Regions from separate parts of the Homo sapiens genome. Here region 2 is linked to region 1. Evidence: fine-mapped expression QTL. A gene starts in region 1. The other region holds a variant in brackets. All regions are shown on one strand. Distances are between the middles of the regions. Region 1 holds the start of SCUBE1-AS2 (SCUBE1 antisense RNA 2). Region 2 overlaps SCUBE1 (signal peptide, CUB domain and EGF like domain containing 1).

Region 1 (8,320 bases):
CATTGGATTTGAACTGGATCCAGAGCTTGCGGGAGCGGGAGGTGAAGGCGATGGGCCTCTCGTAGGTCTGGCAGGTCTCATAGGTGGTGATGGACGTGGGAGAGGCTGCGGGTGAAGCATCATTGCTGAGCTGCCACAGGTAGGCAGCTCCTCCTGCCCTAGGCCACTCGCCTCCCATCCAGTCCACCACCCAGCACCTGCACCGAACGCCTGGTCCCCCAAACACAACGGCTTAGTCTTTGTGCTTGCTCCCTCTGCCTCTGAGGCCCTTCCCTACCCTCAACCCGGGTTCTTACTTGTCCTTCTGAGACCCATCTCTGTCCCCTCTTCCAGGAAGCCTCCCTGACTCTCCCCCCATCCCCTCCCAAGATCTTGCTCTGCTCTGGTGAACCCCTTATCACAGGCCCCTCTGTCAGTGGGTCTCCATCTCCCTCCAGCTAACTGCTCCTCGGTGACAGGGCTCAGGCCTGCACTTGGTGCAAGGCCAGGGTGGGAGTGGAAGCTGGGGGAGGACGTGGGAGATGAACTGGCACTGACTGCTGGGACCAGAGGCACAGACTTGGGAAGTCCCTTCTCCCCGAGAGCAAATACACCAGCAAGGCCCACTGAGCCCTGATCTCCCGAGGAGGAAATCAGGAGCCGAGTGCGGCAGCGTGGGTACAGCATGTGACCGGCAGGTGAATCTTCCCAAACTCTGCAAACCATCCTTTTCTCAGACACGGTGACAGTGGGAGCACCCCAGCCCTGCCCAGCCTCTCCCCGCTTAAGGGCTCCTTGGCAAGGCCTCACGGCTCCCTGGGGGCCTTCCCGAGGAGCCCTTCATGGGGGACAGGCTGGGCTTCACTTCAGCTCAGGCTTGTGGTGGGGGACAGAAGGAGGGGATGCTGGGGGCAGGGGAACGGGTGAGGGGAACGGGTGGGGAATGTGGTCCCAGGCCGGTCCCTTGCCCATCCGCACACTGCGGCTTTTGGCTGCTCAGCTGCGTCAGCCTTGCTGACATCCGTCTACTCATTAGCTATGCTGAGCAACTCCTGCCCAGGATAACGCAACTCTGGAGGAGCAGCCCTGGCGCAGACCTCAGGCCCCTCCCCACCCCCTCATCTGGCCGGTCTCTGTGGTCACTGGGTACCCAGAGATGTTCTCTGGCCAGCGTCTGTGGGTGTCTGGGTTCCTGCTCTTCCTTCCCTAACACTCAGACATGGAGCTCGCTCACATGGGCACCCACAGCCCGACAGCAGCGAGGTGCCCTGGACAGGTGCGCTGCAGGTATTTGGCTGGTGCTCGGGTGGCTCAGGGGCCTCCCAGGCATTCCTGCTGCTGTGGCCAGCTGGGCACACAGCGGTCACACCCACTGCTGAGTCCAGTCCTCTCTCATGCCATTCCATCCTTCACTCCCTAAAGTCTCAAGAGGAGCCCTGACGGGGGCGGATGAGCCAGGAGTCCAGGGCTCACAGAGGGGTGGGGAGGGCTCTCTGAGCTGTTATCTTGTGTGGTGCATGGGACGGCCGTGTGGTCCCCCAAACCTCAGCGGGCGGGAGGAGACCCATGGAGCTGGAGCCTGAGGTCTCGCCCTGAGCGGTGCGGCAGAAAGTGGTGGCAAGGGGCCCTGCGGCTGGTCCCGCCACTGGGATGAGGGCCCGGCTCGTGGCCGGAGTTGAGACCAGGCCTGACCATGTCCCAGCATCCACTCTCGGAATACCCTAAGCTCTCCAGATCTTTCCACAGAACTCTGTAAAGCCAGCTCTTAGACCCAAGTGGGTTTCAACCCTGCCTCCCAGGTGGACTCTGAGGGGCTGGTCCTCTGAGCCCCAGGGCCCTCCTCTCTGCCCTGTGAAGGCAGCGATCCCGCCTGGCAGAACCGCAGCGAGACGGGGGTGCACACGCAGCTGAGGCTGCCTCTGGTCCCCTCGGCCCCCAACATACCACTCTTCCTCATGACCAGAACATCGCCGCACTCATCCTCGATGGGCAGGAAGATCTCAGGGACCACGATGAGGATCCTGCGCTTTGGGGGAGGCGCGATGTGCCAGACGCATTCAGCGTTGGCTGGGTAGTCGCCAGGGTAGTTGGGGGACTCGATGTAGCCGGTGTAGTCACCAAGCTCGCCGCCGCAGTGCTGGTCTGTGGGCACAGTGGCCCGAGGGCCTCATCAGGCTCTGCTGGGCAGGGGCCCTGGCCGGCCAGGCCTCTAACCACCTGGGAGGCCTAGGGCAGGGCTGGAAGGTGCTCTTGTCCCCCCCCACACTAGCCCTCGGACCCTGAGCCCATCCTCCTTGGGGACCCTGCCTGGGCTGCCCCCAGAGCAGGAGGGCAGGTCCCCTGTTCAGGCCTGTGGTTCCCTGAGGCCCAGCCTGGGGGCTTCTTCTTACTGGGCTGCCATGCCTGCAGGCCCACCCTATTTCTCTGTGGCTGGGCCTTGTCAGGGGCACTGAGAGGGCCTGGAGCCCTGCTCTCTCTAGAGGCCCTGTCAGTGCCCCTGTAGGCTGTCAGCCCCCCCAGCAGACCCAGAAACTAGAGCAGGGCCTGGCCCAGGGCAGAGGCTTGGGCTGTGTTGGGTGAGCAGTGGGAACTGATGAACGATGGCCACCACTGTGGGCTCCGTAGAGTGGGCCAAGCCAGGGCTGCCCCTTTGGTGCCACAGGCCTCCAGATGGATGCAATGCACCCGAGAGCAGACGGGACGGAGCGGGAGGAGTCCAGTGTCCTCGTGGAGCTCGTGTGAGATCAGGTCTCCTCCCGCCCCCACAACCTGCCCAGCCCCTCCCGTGTTCCCAGCTTCCCACGGCAGAGCAGCAGCACCCACTTTTGCAGTGTGTGACGTTGGTGGAGCCATCGAAGTCTGTGCTGGTGTTGCCCGGACAGGTGATGCAGTGGTTCTGGCCAAACTCGGGCTGGTAGGTGCCGACGGGGCAGCGGATGCAGCGGTGGGTGGTGGTGTTGTAGTGGTGGCCGGGGGAGCAGTGCACTGCCGGGGGACACAAGGCAGTGTGGTGGGTGTGGAGGGGTGCAGGGAAAGGGCAGCACTGGGGTGCTGTCCCCAGGACCTCTCATGCCCTCGAGGTCTGTTTTGGCACAGAGTTCAAGGCTCCTCCCCACCGCCCCATGACCTCCCACCACCCTCACTCCGCCATGGCCAGGAAGAGCCCTTGGCGTGGGGGTCACATGGCAGATTGATGTGATGTTGGCTCCAGCAAAACAGGGACCACACAGGCCACCTTGATGGGAGCCATTTTCAGGGAGAGCGGGGGCGATGATGTGGCCGGAGGCGTGCGGGGGAGACAGGGAGGAGGGGAAGTGGAGCCAGCTAGGCCAAACCCTCTTTCTACAAGGTTGCTGGGGCAGGAGAGACAGGCGGCCGGAGTCTGAGGGGTGCCGGGGCGGGGGGCTAGAGATGGGCAATTCTTTTTTTTTTTTTTTGAGATGGAGCTCGCTCCGTCACCCAGGCTGGAGTGCAATGGTGCCATCTCGGCTCACTGCAACCTCCACCTCCTGGGTTCAAGCGATCCTCCCCTCCCAGTCTCCCGAGTAGCTGGGATTACAGGTGCACATCACCACACCCGGCTAATTATTTTTGTATTTTTTTTAAGTAGAGACAGGGTTTTGCCATGCTAGCCGGGCTGGCCTCAAACTTCTGACCTCAGGTGATCCACCCCCTTTGGCCTCCCAAAGTGCTGGGATTATAGGTGTGTGCCACCGCACCTGGCTTCTTTTTTTAAATGGGCAAATTCAGAACAGTTTGTATGTGCAGGGGAGTATCTGGTGATGTGGCTGGCTCCAGGGGGCTGAGAGCCAGGCCACCTGGACAGACAGACAGACACTGAGAGGGAGCACGGTGGGGAAGCAGGGTCAGCAGCTGAGAATGGGGAGGATTTGGGGGAGTTGGTGAGTGAGGGAAGACGGGATGTAGACCTGGGTGGGACCAGATGCCCTGAACAGACAGCAGTTGAGGTGATGCCCTGATCCCGCTCCTGCCCCCACACTCCTGCCCCCACACTCCTGCCCCCTCCTCACCCTCCCAACCTCCCTTCTAGATGCTGCTCAAGGCCTCCTGTCCCCAGAGCCCTCCCCAGTGCTCCGAGGAGCTGCTGTTCCCCCTGGAGCTCAGAAAGCTCTCAGCTATAAGGTGTCCCTGTCCTAATGCGGGGCACAGTGGGTCACCCACGCCCACGCCTGACAGCTCCAGGCTCCTCCTCTGAGCTGGGAGGTTCGCCACATGGAGGAGATGAGAGGGGTTCGGGGAAGCCTCTCGGAGCAGTGCAGCCCTGCCTCTCGGGGTGGGCGGGCGTGGTGGGGAGGGCATGCTCACCTTTAGCCTCGCAGTCCTGGAAGGAGGTGGTGCCTTCGTGTTTGGTGAGCAAACCCCCTCCACAGGGGAAGCAGCCGGTGCGCCCGGGCTCAGGCTGGTACGTGCCCACGGGGCAGGCCTGGCAGGGCTTGAAGCCATCGGCCGAGAAGAAGCCTGGAGAACACTGGCCTGAAAGTCAGAGGTCATGGCTCAGGCGGGCAGGAGGGCACCGCAGGGCCGAGGCTGTGGGTGGTCTCAGGCCCCGCTCTTGGCCCTTGCCCGGCCCTGGAAAAGGTACTGGGCACCCGAGGCCTGGGGTGGGGACGGGGTGGGGAAAACGCAGCAGCCGGGGTGCAGGAAGCTGGGCCCTGGTCCGGATGATGCCAGCGGTTCATGTGCGGCCTTGGTCAAGCCTGGCTCTCCTTCTCCCACCAGCAAGAAGGCCTGGGGGTTGAAGAGCAAGAGGCCTTGCTGCTGAGCTGGGAAGGGGACCCACAGGTGGAGGGGCAGGTCACGTGTCTCAGAGGGGCTGTCCCCGGGGGGTAGGCTGCACCGGGGTCTCCGCAGAAGGAGCACCTGCTCAGCTTCAGGGTGACGCTGCCTGGTCTACCAGCAGGGCCAGGCCAGAGCAGAGGGAGGCGGGTCTGGGGAGGGTTTCTGAGGTACTCAAGGGCACCCCTGGGACAAAGGGAGGGGACCACAGGAAAGCCAATTTCAGCTCCGAGTAAAGAATGTTCTTGCGTTCCAGCAGACTCAGGATGCAGAGAGTATTCTGGCATTGAGTGAGAGGCGGGTTTAGCACCCTCTCAGCCCAGACCCTGGGATTCTCAGCTTCTACCCAAACACGGAATCTCCTACCAGTGGCCACTCCCCCAGGGGTGGAGACCACACTCCTGGAGTGGGCGTGGGCCAGAGAGCAGCCGGCAGCCTGGACGGACTCAGGGCTGGGCTCTGAGCCCTTCCATCACCGGGAGAAAGCTGGAGGTCTCCAGTATCCTGGGACCCCACTCCCCCACCCTCACAGGCACTGTGCTTCTCAGGGTGCTGAGAACCTTCCCCGCGGATTCTCTTGGGTGAAACTCACAGTGGCCTGGGAAGAAAGGCTCATGGGGAGACTGAGCTAGCTTCACAGATGGAGTTAAGTGGGGAGAGGGAGGTAAATGCAAAAGCTCTTTGCAAACCTAACTGCATTTGGTAAATTGAAAAAGGGCTTTCTAAACCGTCTGTGGGGCACATAATAAAGTTCTTTGTGTGGAGCAAAGTTCTTGCTCAAGTATAAGATACTCTCTGCAAAGTGTTCCAGTTGTAATGGAATGTTCCGTAAAATGTAAGCTGTCTAGTCCACCATAAGGCACTTATGTACCTCCCTTAGAAACCGTAAGTTGCACACTGTGAAGTCCTTTCCAAAGGGCACAATGCAATTCTGAGAGCACACCGAGTGCAGTGCAGCGCTCAGCACTGTAGTGCAGGCCGGGACTGCTGACGCTTTGGGATCTGTCACGCACTTTGTAAGTGATGACTGCACAGACATCGTGAAGGGTTTTGGAAACGACAAGGAACTTTAGAAAATACCACACTCTCTGGCCACACCAGGCACCTGGGCCTTCGACAGGAGGGCCTCATCAGAGACAGGAGGAGCCCCCGCCCACCCCCCACCCCCACCTCTCCTTCTAGGCCCGCACTTGCCTCCACATTCCGACACGTTGCGGGCACCAGGCAGACCAAGCCCGTCGCTGCTGGGGCACGGTGTGCAACTGAGCTGGCCTTCCATGTCCTGGTATGTTCCTGGCATACATGACACACACTGGCCGAGCTCACCACCGAAGTGGGTGCCAGGCCCACAGGCAACTGCAGAGGCAAAGCGGAGAGGCTGCTGGAGGCAGAGGTGGGGAGGCCAGGGGTGTCTCCTGTGTGCTCAAGCCCAGGCTCTCCTGATAGACACAGTCCTTGTCCCCTGGGGCCCCAAGGACACAGAGGGGCCCCTGACCTATCCCAGAAGAGCCTGGGGCAAGACCCAGGAGGCAGCCATCTGTGAGGGCCATGAAGCCTGGCCCCTCTGGCTGCTGCACCTCAGAGTCCTCTGTGGACCCCTCCATCTCCACCCGCTTATAGAAGCCTGTGGTCCCCACCTCCCCCATACGTCTGTCCTCTGTCTGCTCCACACCCTGCCCTCCAGCTTTAGCAAACTGCCTCCTGGATGTCGCCACTTGGATATGCTACAGTCATTTCACCCCGAAGCTCCCCTGTCCTTCCTGAGTGGAGGAGTTAGGGGCAGTGGGGAGGGACTGGGGCTCAAATAGGCAAGGGCAGGAGGGCCTGGCGGGCGAGGTGGGAGGGGCGTAGCGAGGAGATGATGGGCTGAAGACAGCGCAGTCTGGTTGGCTACACTGAACAAATACGTCGACTGATGAGTAAGTAAGGAAACTGAGTAAATCAGTAAATTCAGGAGAAAGGGAGCCGAGTTTCTCAGTGCTGGAGAAGATGCTTACAAATGCGGAAATGGGGAGTGAAGGTTAGAAAAGACCCTGAGGTGTGGAACGGGAGGCACTGGCATGAATTCATGGTTTTAGAACCCCCCCACCCATAGATTCCCATGCCTGTGTGTGCACGTGTATACACATCTATGCTTTCCAGTTCTGTCCGATGAGAGGGCCTAGAGGCAGTGGTACTCCAGGAGCAATGAATATCCCAGATTTTGGTTTCTACCCATCATCCTCCTCTCAAAGGAACCAGGGGTCCTTGGGGATTTGGCTGATGCCAGGGGATGGAGAGTGTCAGTTGGATCTGAAGGGGAGGCTCGCAGCATGTGTGTGGCAGGTCAGACAGACCCAAGAGCCAGCTTGGTGGGGCATCCCTGGCTACCCTGGGGACACAGTGAGCGCCGAACTAAATAACATCAGGAATGGATCACCACGCAATGAGTAAGGGGAATCTGAGTCTATAGGGATACAGACCCAGAGGTAAACGGCCATGGCCACCCACTTTCCTACAGGAGAATGTGACTAGTGAGCGTGGAACATGGAACAAATGGTAGAGGTGGCTGACATGGCGGGAGCTGTGCAGAAGTTTGATGAGGAGGAGAATATTGGTCCAAACTCAGAAAACACTCATCAATCACAGAGAGAAAATGGCGAGTGAAAGTGAAGCCAGTGGCGGGCTGGGGGTATCCTGTGCCTGCTGATGGGGCACCCAGGATTAGGCCTCGAAGCTGAGGTTCCTGCTGGACCCTGGGCCCTGAGTCAGGTCCCCAGGAAAAACCAGAGGGAGCTCTGAGCGTTAGCCTAGAGGAGGTGAGTTTGGGACAAGGGCAGGAGAGGCAGGGAAAGGGGAGAAGCGGCTCCAGACTGAAGGAGCCTGAAGACACAGTGGAGGGTGACATGTCTTTCTGGATGGGAGCTGGGACCAGAAAAACAAAAGGGACATTGTTGGAAGGATTGCTGGAGCTGAATGGGGTGGGTGTGTGGGTTGGATGGTGAAGACTACACACTCACACATGCATGCACACTCACACACATGCACACGTGTGGGAGACGGGGCAGATGTGGTCAAATGTGCACAATTGGGGAATTTGGATGAAGAAAATATGGAAGTTTTTTGTTCTGCTTGACAATGTTTCTGAAACTTTGAAATAATTTCAAAATAAGTTATTTATTTTTATTTTGGGATGGAGTCTCGCTCTGTCACCCAGGCTGGAGTGCAGTGGTGTGATCTCAGCTCACTGCAACCTCTGCCTCCCAGGTTCAAGTGACTCTCCTGTCTCAGCCTCCCCAGTAGCTAGGATTGCAGGCGCTCGCCACCACACCCAGCTAATTTTTGTATTTTTAGTAGAGACGGGGTTTCACCATGTTGGCCAGGCTGGTCTCAAACTCCTGACCTCAGGTGATCCACCTGTCTCGGCCTCCCAAAGTGCTGGGATTACAGGCGTGAGCTACCATGCCCGGCCCAAAATAAGTTATTGAAAGTAGAAGAGGCTGGGCGCAGTGGCTCACACCCATAATCCCAGCACTTTGGGAGGCCGAGGTGGGCAGATCATGAG
Region 2 (8,320 bases), 86 kb after region 1:
CCTCACCCCCGGCCCCCGAGGAGGGGAGGAAATCATGGCTGCCAAATCTCTTGGGTGGCTTGAGGCCATGACCAGCATCTCTAGGGAAGGGCCTGAGGCCCCACACACGCCTCTTGCACCCCTGTGTCTCCAGCACTTCAAGTGGGCCCCACACTGAGGTCTGAAGAGCATCCAACTGCAGCAGCTGGGTCTGTGAGATGCCGCCCATGAGCCCAGGACAGACTGGGCTCACTTGGAGGCCCTGGCCAGGCCTGGCAGGGCACTATGAGAAACAGTACTTTGGCCCTCTCCAAGAGGTGCTGTGAGCCCAGCACACACCGCCCCATGGTCCCCCAGCATTTGGCACACTCTATTATGAGAGGTGTCCTCATGGAAAAGGGGAACCCACACCTGGGAGTCAGGCTCCCTGAGTTCTGCCCCTGTCTTGCCCTGTAGCCTGTGGGCGATGCCCAGGCCTTATCCCTGGGAAGTGCTCCCAGAGCTTGAGGGATTGCAGACTGCGTCCTCCAGGAAGTCCTCCTGGAATGCCTGTGGTGTGTGCAGCCCTCCTCCTTCTCTGCCCCGTGGAACTGACTGTCAGTGCATGGATGGGTCCTGTGTGGCTGGCCCCGTGTGAGAATCCCAGCCCACCCCCAAGCCCTCACACAGAGGTGAGCGTTGAGGCTGGGCGGGGTTGCCAGCCTCACTACCATAAATAACGGCAATTGCTGCCAGCGAGGCCCCAGCTCAGGCATTATCTTAATAAATCCACACAACAGCTCCACACCGGGGGCATTATTCTTATTATCCCTGATTCTCAGGTGAGAAAACTGGGGCCTGGAGATGGAGAGAGATTTCCTCAAAGCTCTAAAAGAGGCAGAAAGAGAACTGGAAGCCCCATGAATCCAAAGCCCTCCCTCTCCTCCCGCAGGATTCAGCTGTGAATGACGACCCTTCAAGTCCGATGGCGGTAGTGACGAAGGTTCCCAGGTGCTGATGCTTACAAACCTCCCTGGCCCCTCCATGCCCACCTCTCCAAAGCCCAGTGCTCAGCCTCCTCCTCCGTGTAGTCTTTCTGGTGCCCAGCATAATTCACTCCACCCCGGCTTCCAGGCCAGGCCTGCCTTCCTTCACTACTTCCTTCCTCTGCCCTGGACCAGAGGGCTTGCCTATCCTGTCCCCGCCCTGGGGTGAGGACAGATCTGAGTCTCCTTTATATCCTTGCTCCTAGCAGCGGGTCAGGCCAAGAGTGATTACTCAAGTGACAGGAGGGTAAATGGGATGGCACAGTTTGTGCTTGCACACACCAGTGCCAGGGAGCTCACTACCGCCAAGGGACCAGTCCCAGGGGGCAGAGTGCTGTCCTTATTCCCACTGGGCACGAGGGGGGCTTCAGCTGTGAGTGGGCTCTCATAGCCTGCCCACTTCTTCAGCCATGCTCTAGGAATCCGCTGCGGCTGCTCTCTGAACACAGCCCACCCATTCACCTCTGCCCGAGTGTGCATGCCACCCTCCTCCTGGAACTGCCTCCCCTCCTTGTCCAGACCGAAGTTTTTCTTGCCTTCTGAATCCACCTGAAACGCCTCTGTTCATTCACTCACTCCGTGAACACCAAGCACCTACTCTGTGCCACACTACCCCTGAGCTGCCAGGGACACCAAGCTCCAGGGCACTGGGCCAGAGCACAGAGATGGGAGGCTTCCTGGAAGAGGCGAAGTACAAGCTGCTTTGAGGACAGCAGAGAGGTGTGACCTGAGCCTGGGGATCCTGGAGGAGGCGGAGGTGTTCTGAAAGCAAAGGCTCATGGAAGGGGCAGGGCAGGGCCCAGACAGGGAAGGGCCTGCAGCCTCTCTAACAGGAGGAGAGTTCTGGAAGCAACCAGGGAAAGGTGGCTGACAGGGTCCTGGATGCTGGGCTAAGAGGAACAGCAGAGCCAGGCCGTGGGCATGTAGAGTGAGCGAGGCTGCTCTGTGGCCTGCACCCTACCCTGGCGACCCCACACAGCGCTCAAAAACCCCAGCTCTGTTCGGGTCCCCACATCAGTCCAACTAGCAGGGGGACAGTCCCTGCAGAAAACATTTGTGCAGCCTGACACGCAGAGTGTCCCAAACCACTGAGGCCTTGGGCCAGGGCTGAGCCTGCGTGTAGTGAGGCCCCTGAGTGGGCCTGTTTCCAATCCGGGGTCCAGAATCCCTGGGCGGCTCTAGGAGGGGTAGGGGGAGTGTCCCGCCTCTGAATCCTGCTGGCAGCTCATGGTCCTTCATCTTTATTTATGACCACAGCTAAATGTTCCCAGAAGGCACGGAGCTCCTCAGCACAGCACAGGGACTTAGCTACAAAGAGACAGGAGGTCCCCTGGGCTCTGGGGCAGACTCTAGGAGGCTCCTTTCAGGAAATCCTTTCAACTGGTGAGAGAGACGGGGGAGGTAGAGTGGAGAGCGGGCCCTCCATGCCCGGTCCTGGGAGGAGCCTTTCACAGCTGTCTGGACCGGCGTGGTTGAGGCTGGAAGGCACTGGTCCACAGCCTCTTTTGATGTACAACTGTATCTGTGATTGTGCCATCGAACCGCCGGAGCCCTTCCCTCTTCCGGGCCAAGGCTGAAATGGCAGGCAAGGGAGCTGGGAGGAAGAGAAGGTGGAACCTTGGTGGGCCGTGCCACAGGGGCCTTCAGCAGGTGGGGCTGGGAGACCCCCTCGGAAAAAGACCACTCCAGTGAGGTATGGGACAAAAGACAGGGAGCCTGAAGGTCCTTGAAGGCTGCTCCCCGTGAGCTGTGAACTCCCATTCCTTCAGCCCGCAGAGCTGGGGGAGGTCAGAGGTGGGAGAAGGGAAGGACAGGAGTCAAGAAAGGCTGAGCATTTGGAGCACAAAAGAGGGGCCTCACTGGTCAGGGTCTGGCCCTCGTCCCACCCAGCCACCAGGCCTGAGGACCCTGTTGTTCTCGAAGCCCCTTTCTTCTGCCCCTCTCCCAAGGGTCTGACCAAGGCTGCTGACTTTTTCCACGCCACCTTGCCCGTCCATCTCCCTGGCTCCCATGAGACAGCCCTGGCTTGGACCTCAGCTTCCTCTTTGGGGTAGGCTGCACACTTCTCCTGGGTCTCAGCCTCCAGCCTCTCCCTCCCAATCCCTTCTCCATGGGCAGTGGCTGCTGTGATGAGTCTGGCTGGAACAGGACATGGCACCTTGGTCCCACAGGGTCTCTGGGGTCAGGTCCCACCTCCTCACTGTGCAGTACCCAGCATGAGCACAGCTCTGGAGGCCGGGGTGGCGGCGGACGGCCCTCAGCTGTGACTCTTGCCCATCTCCACTCGGTCCTCACAGGCGCAGGCCACCTCCACCTGCTGCCAGCCACTGAAGGGTGATGTGTGGGAGGGGACCCCTGTGCTGTGATTGACATGGTTGTTTTCCAGCAAGAAGAATTTCCAGAGCTGACATCAGCAGGCCATAGGTTGACCCGCTTCCGAAAGGCCTCTGCAGGCAGGACCAGTTTCCCCGGGAGGTGTGCTTCTTGGCCCAAGATGCTGATGTTTGTTTTTATTAATAGCTGGCTGTT[T/C]GTTCTACTTTGGACCAAGAGTCCAGGTTCACAGTTATTTATAACAACTAAAAATTACTTCTGGATCCAGCTCTGGCTGCTTTGTGTTTCCCGCAAATATTTCCCGATTTGAAACAGAGACTCCGTGTTCTGCTTGGACCCACCCATGTTTTCATGGCTGTCAAGAGCCTACTGTGTGTCAGGCCCTCCACTGGCTCCGGTGTCCCAGCTCCCACGGAAGGTCTAGAAACAGAGGCAGAGGTGCCCAGCCCATCTTAGGAAGCGAACTCCACCTCCAGCACGGAGAGCTCCCACCTGGTCCCAGGGGGCTGAGGCCCCCACCGCCTGCCGGCTCCTTTCAGAAGGGCGGCTTAGGCAGAAAAGCCTCTTGGCTATCTAGCGGCTCTTGCAAAATTGCATTTGATGAGTTAAGTGTAAATAAATGAGAACCAGATGGATTAGATTTTGGGTAAAATACACACGGGTCTTAGAGCTTTGGGGCCTGGGTTCTGCCAGATCCAGAACACTCTCCGAGCTGTCAAGAGCTGCTGGCACAGGCGGCAGGAGGTATGCCTGGGGTCTCCCAGGACCTGTCTGCTTCCTGGTCTGGGCATCAGCTGAGGTCTTCCCTGGGGCTCCTGATTCCCCAGCAGGTTGGCCGTGTGCAGAAGACACAGAGCCAACCTCTTGGCCTGGGCCTGAGTCCAAGCTCAGGGTGGGAGATGAGGCGCATGAATGGTAAGGTCAGCTTTCCAGACCAGCAAGCTCACTGCTCACGTCCAAACCCAGCAAGCCAGCCCAGGGAAGGCAGAGGTGGTGAAGCCTGCTGGCCGCTGGGGTCTGCTCACTCTGCTCTCCGCAACCTGAGTCCTGCCTTCCAGCCCAGCCGCTGCCCTGCCGCCCCCTGCTGTGCATCTCTAGGGAAGGACGGGAGTCTACCGCCCAGTGCAGACCGCTGGCCAGTCCTCAAAGGGGTCTGCGTGATGCTGCCCTGTGACCACTGCCCATGGGACCTGGCTGTTGCTCTACAAGTCATACCAGATGGAGTACAAGATTCAGTGAGTCGACTGGGCTTGGTGGCTCACGCCTGTAATCCCAGCACTTTGGGAGGCTGAGGCGGGCGGATCACAAGGTCAGGAGATCAAGACCATCCTGGCTAACACGGTGAAACCCTGTCTCTACTAAAAATACAAAAAATTAGCCGGGCATGGTGGCGGGTGCCTGTAGTCCCAGCTGCTTGGGAGGCTGAGGCAGGAGCATGGTGTGAACCCGGGAGGCGGAGCTTGCAGTGAGCCAGACCGCACCACTGCACTCTGGCCTGGGGCGACACAGCGAGACTCCGTCTCAAAAAAAAAAAAAAGAAAAAAGATTCAGTGAGTCTTTGCTGGTCACTTGCTCTGTGACCTTGAGCAGGTCATTTCACCATTTTGGGCCTTGGTTTCCTTCTCTATAAAACAGGGATAAAAGTCCCTGAGGTGTTTGGGAGTCAAAGGAGGTGATGGAGGTAATGTACTCTGCACAGCGCCTGGCACACACAGACCACCACCGAGTGTGAGCAGGTGCAGCACGAAGCCGCTGCTCATGGCCTCAGGGAATCACGGGTACGAACGTACTCCAGTGACAGCAAAGTCCCTTCCAAAATGCAAAAGCAACAACAAACCACATCAGAGGGGAGCACTCAGACCCGCCTCAGCCTTCTGGTCTCCAAGTGAAGCCGCTCGGCTCCTGACACTGTTCCCTCCTGAATAAGCTTCTGGCACACTCACCACCCAGGTCGCCCTTCTCTGGGGATCCCAGCTTACTGGGGCACTCACAATTGGCCCAGAAGTGGACAGAGCTGTGCACATGGTCTGCTTGGAGGATGTGGGTGGGACTTTTGATGCTATGTTCGTGTGACCTCTGCTATTTCTCCAATCCCGTTTCTGGTTGAGATAGAACTCATGGAGCACACAATTCACAATCTTTAAGCCGACATCTTAGTGGTTTTTAGTATATTCACCGTGTTGCACGACCATCACTACTAATTCCAGAATATTTCCATCATGCCAGAAAGAGGACCTGTGCCCGTTTTCGGTTAGTCCCAATTCCTACCCCTTCGCCCCTGGAAACCACATGTCTACTTTCCATCTATGGTTTGCCCATTCTGGACATTTCATGTAAAGAGAGTCATGCGATATTTGTCTTTGTGTGTCTGGCTTCCTTCACTTAGCATGTTTTCAAGCTGCATCCATGTCGTAGCGTGACTCAGCACTTCATTCCCTTTTACGGCTGAACAGTATTCTATTGCATGGACAGACCACATTTCATGTATCTCTTCGTGAGCTGATGGACATCCGGGTTGTGCTGGCTTTGTGGCTGTTATGAACGGTGCTGCTGAACACTGTGTGTAAGTTTTCGTGGGGGTATACGCCTTCAGCTCTCCTGGGTGGATACCTGGGGGTGGCACTGTCACATCATCTGGTAACTCCATGTGTGCCCTTTTTGAGGAAATGACTGTTTACCACGGGCGACACCGTTTTACATTTCCAACCAGCAAAGTATGGGGTTTCTAATTTCTCCATATCCTCGCCAACACTTGTTCCTTTCTGGGCTTTTTTTTTTTTTTAACAGCCATCCTAGTGGGTGTGGCGTGGTTTCTCATTATGGTTTTGATTTTCATTTTTCTAATGACTAATGATGTTGAACAGCTTTTCACATGCTTAGTGGCCATTTGTATGGCCCTGGGATACAGCGACGCTCAAGACAGACACGGTCCCTGTTCTCACGGGCTCTATGCTGTCTGTGGGGAGACAGAAACAGTCACAAAGACTCCAGGTGGGCGTGGCGTCTCCATCTCTTTGGAGATATGTCTATTCAGGTCCTTTGCCTATTTTTAAACTGGGATGTCTTGAGTTGTAAGAGTTCTTTATACATCCTGGATACTAGACCCTTACCAGATATATGATTGGCAAATACTTTTTCCTATTCTGTGGACACCACCTCCTTTCAAGCAGCCTCAGGCAGCACTAGGTACTCAGGAGTTCAGTGCAGGTCAGTGGGGCCTGGGCTTCTCTCAGGCTCTTCCCTCGCCCCCACCCCATCTACATTTTGTTCCTGGGAGATTTCGCACTGTCCCTTGGCTACCTATCTGCCAAGGTTGCCCCCAAACCCCCAGGCCTGCCAGCTCCACCACCCTCCAACTTAGACATCAAGAGCTGACCTGGTGCCTGCACGTGGACATCCTGCGGGCGTGACAGACTTCATGGGCCGCGTGCTGAACTCCCAAGTCCCCCTCCCACAAAAGCAGAATAGAATGAGACAAAGCTCAGTCTGCCCTCAGCCTTCCCCAGCTCAGCAAATGGTCACACAACCCACAGTTGCTTCAGGCAAAACACCTGGTAGTTATTTTTGATGCTGCTTTCTCCCCACATTGAAGCCCTTAGCAGGTCCAGTCCTTTCAATTCTGCCTGTGAAATTCACCACGAGTACAACACATTCGCTCCCCTCCAGGGCTGCCACGGCTGGGCCAGTCGCCCTCGTCTCTGGCCTGGATTCTCGAACTCCCTGCCTCCATCCTGCCTCTGTCCATCCTCCATCCCTCATGGACCTCATGCCATCCCCCTGCCTGAAAGCCCACAAAGGTGTCATAAACATGAACTCCCTTTCCCGGCCACCAAGCCCACAGGAACTGCTCTGCCCACGTCCCCCCGGGCTCCTCCTCGCTCACCCGCCTCCAGCCAGGCTGCTGTGTCCTGCTCTCCCTTGACCCCAGCTGTCCTGTTCCCATCTCCAGGCCTTGGCATTTGCTCCTCTGCCTGGAATGTTCTTTGCTTGTCTTGGCACGGCTGCCTCCTCCTTCTCCTTCAGACCTCAGCTCACGTGCCGCTTTCCCAGAGATGCTCTCTCTGACCACTAAGCTAAAGTGGCAGACAGGCCATTCTGCAACGTGTCCCTCCCCTGCTTCCTTCAGAGCACGCCCCCACCCACCTGGAATCTTCCTTGTGACTGTTTCTGTCTACCCCCAGGCAACACAGAGCCCCTGAGAACAGGGACCCTGTCTGTTTTGAGCATCACAGTATCCCAGGGTTTTGAACAGTGCACGGGGCACATGATGTATGTCTGCGGACTGGATAACGGACTGAGCACTTCCAAAAGTGTGGGTGGGGAACGGCGCTTCTGGCCTGGACATCCACAGGCCCTGGCTAAAGGCCGTCCCACCAAGGATGAGCTGCATGGCCTTCGCTGCCGTATGCTGCAAAGTGTGGCTGCAGAGGGGCTGCCATGAGGCCCTGCAGCCCCAGGACCTGCTCAAGGAAGCAGCTCTGGATGAGTGACAGGAGCATGTGCTGGCTACCAGTGGGCCGTGGGTGTGTGGGTGGGTCAGGGGCTGACATCAGGAGATGCCAGAGAAGGCTCTCAGAGAAGAGCTGTGCTCATCTGCCGCCTTAGCCTTGCCCGAGAGTGGGGAGCTTGTGCGGAGATCGCGATGGGGAACCAGGTACCCTCACAGTCATTGCCAGCCTGTGGCTTTGGTGCTCAGTGCATGACGGGATCCATGTTGGGGGGCCTCAGAAGAGGGGTGCAGCTCAGCGTCTCCTCCTGCTTTGTCGGCACCTTTACTGACATGAGGACCAAAGTCTCCCACTAAAGAAGCTGCTTGAGCTGGGCAGAGTTTCAGGAAGTGAGTGGAGAGGGAAGCGGTCTGGAGACACAGTGGGATCCCCTACCGAACTACATTTCACTCACTTTGCTAGACCACCTATGGCAAGGCCAGTTCCTCCTTGAACTTCTAGATCACAGGCAGGGCAGGGGGCGGCTGGGGCCCCTGC

Evidence for each region.
Region 2: its variant is fine-mapped to the expression of SCUBE1-AS2 in aorta (GTEx, PIP above 0.99).

What each region holds. Positions count from the first base shown.
Region 1 is chr22:43,208,120-43,216,439 of GRCh38, forward strand. It overlaps SCUBE1-AS2 (SCUBE1 antisense RNA 2), which reads left to right and starts at 4,555. Exons shown (of 2, transcript NR_134632.1): 1 at 4,555-4,578; 2 at 5,036-5,542. It overlaps SCUBE1 (signal peptide, CUB domain and EGF like domain containing 1), which reads right to left. Exons shown (of 22, transcript NM_173050.5): 16 at 5,971-6,132; 17 at 4,306-4,473; 18 at 2,803-2,964; 19 at 1,924-2,121; 20 at 1-105.
Region 2 is chr22:43,294,194-43,302,513 of GRCh38, forward strand. All of the region lies in intron 3 of SCUBE1 (signal peptide, CUB domain and EGF like domain containing 1), which reads right to left. Among named protein-coding and RNA genes, the nearest start is that of SCUBE1-AS1, 22 kb to the left of the region's middle. RefSeq lists enhancers at 6,244-6,745, 6,746-7,245. The variant T/C (reference allele first, on the strand shown) is at 3,534.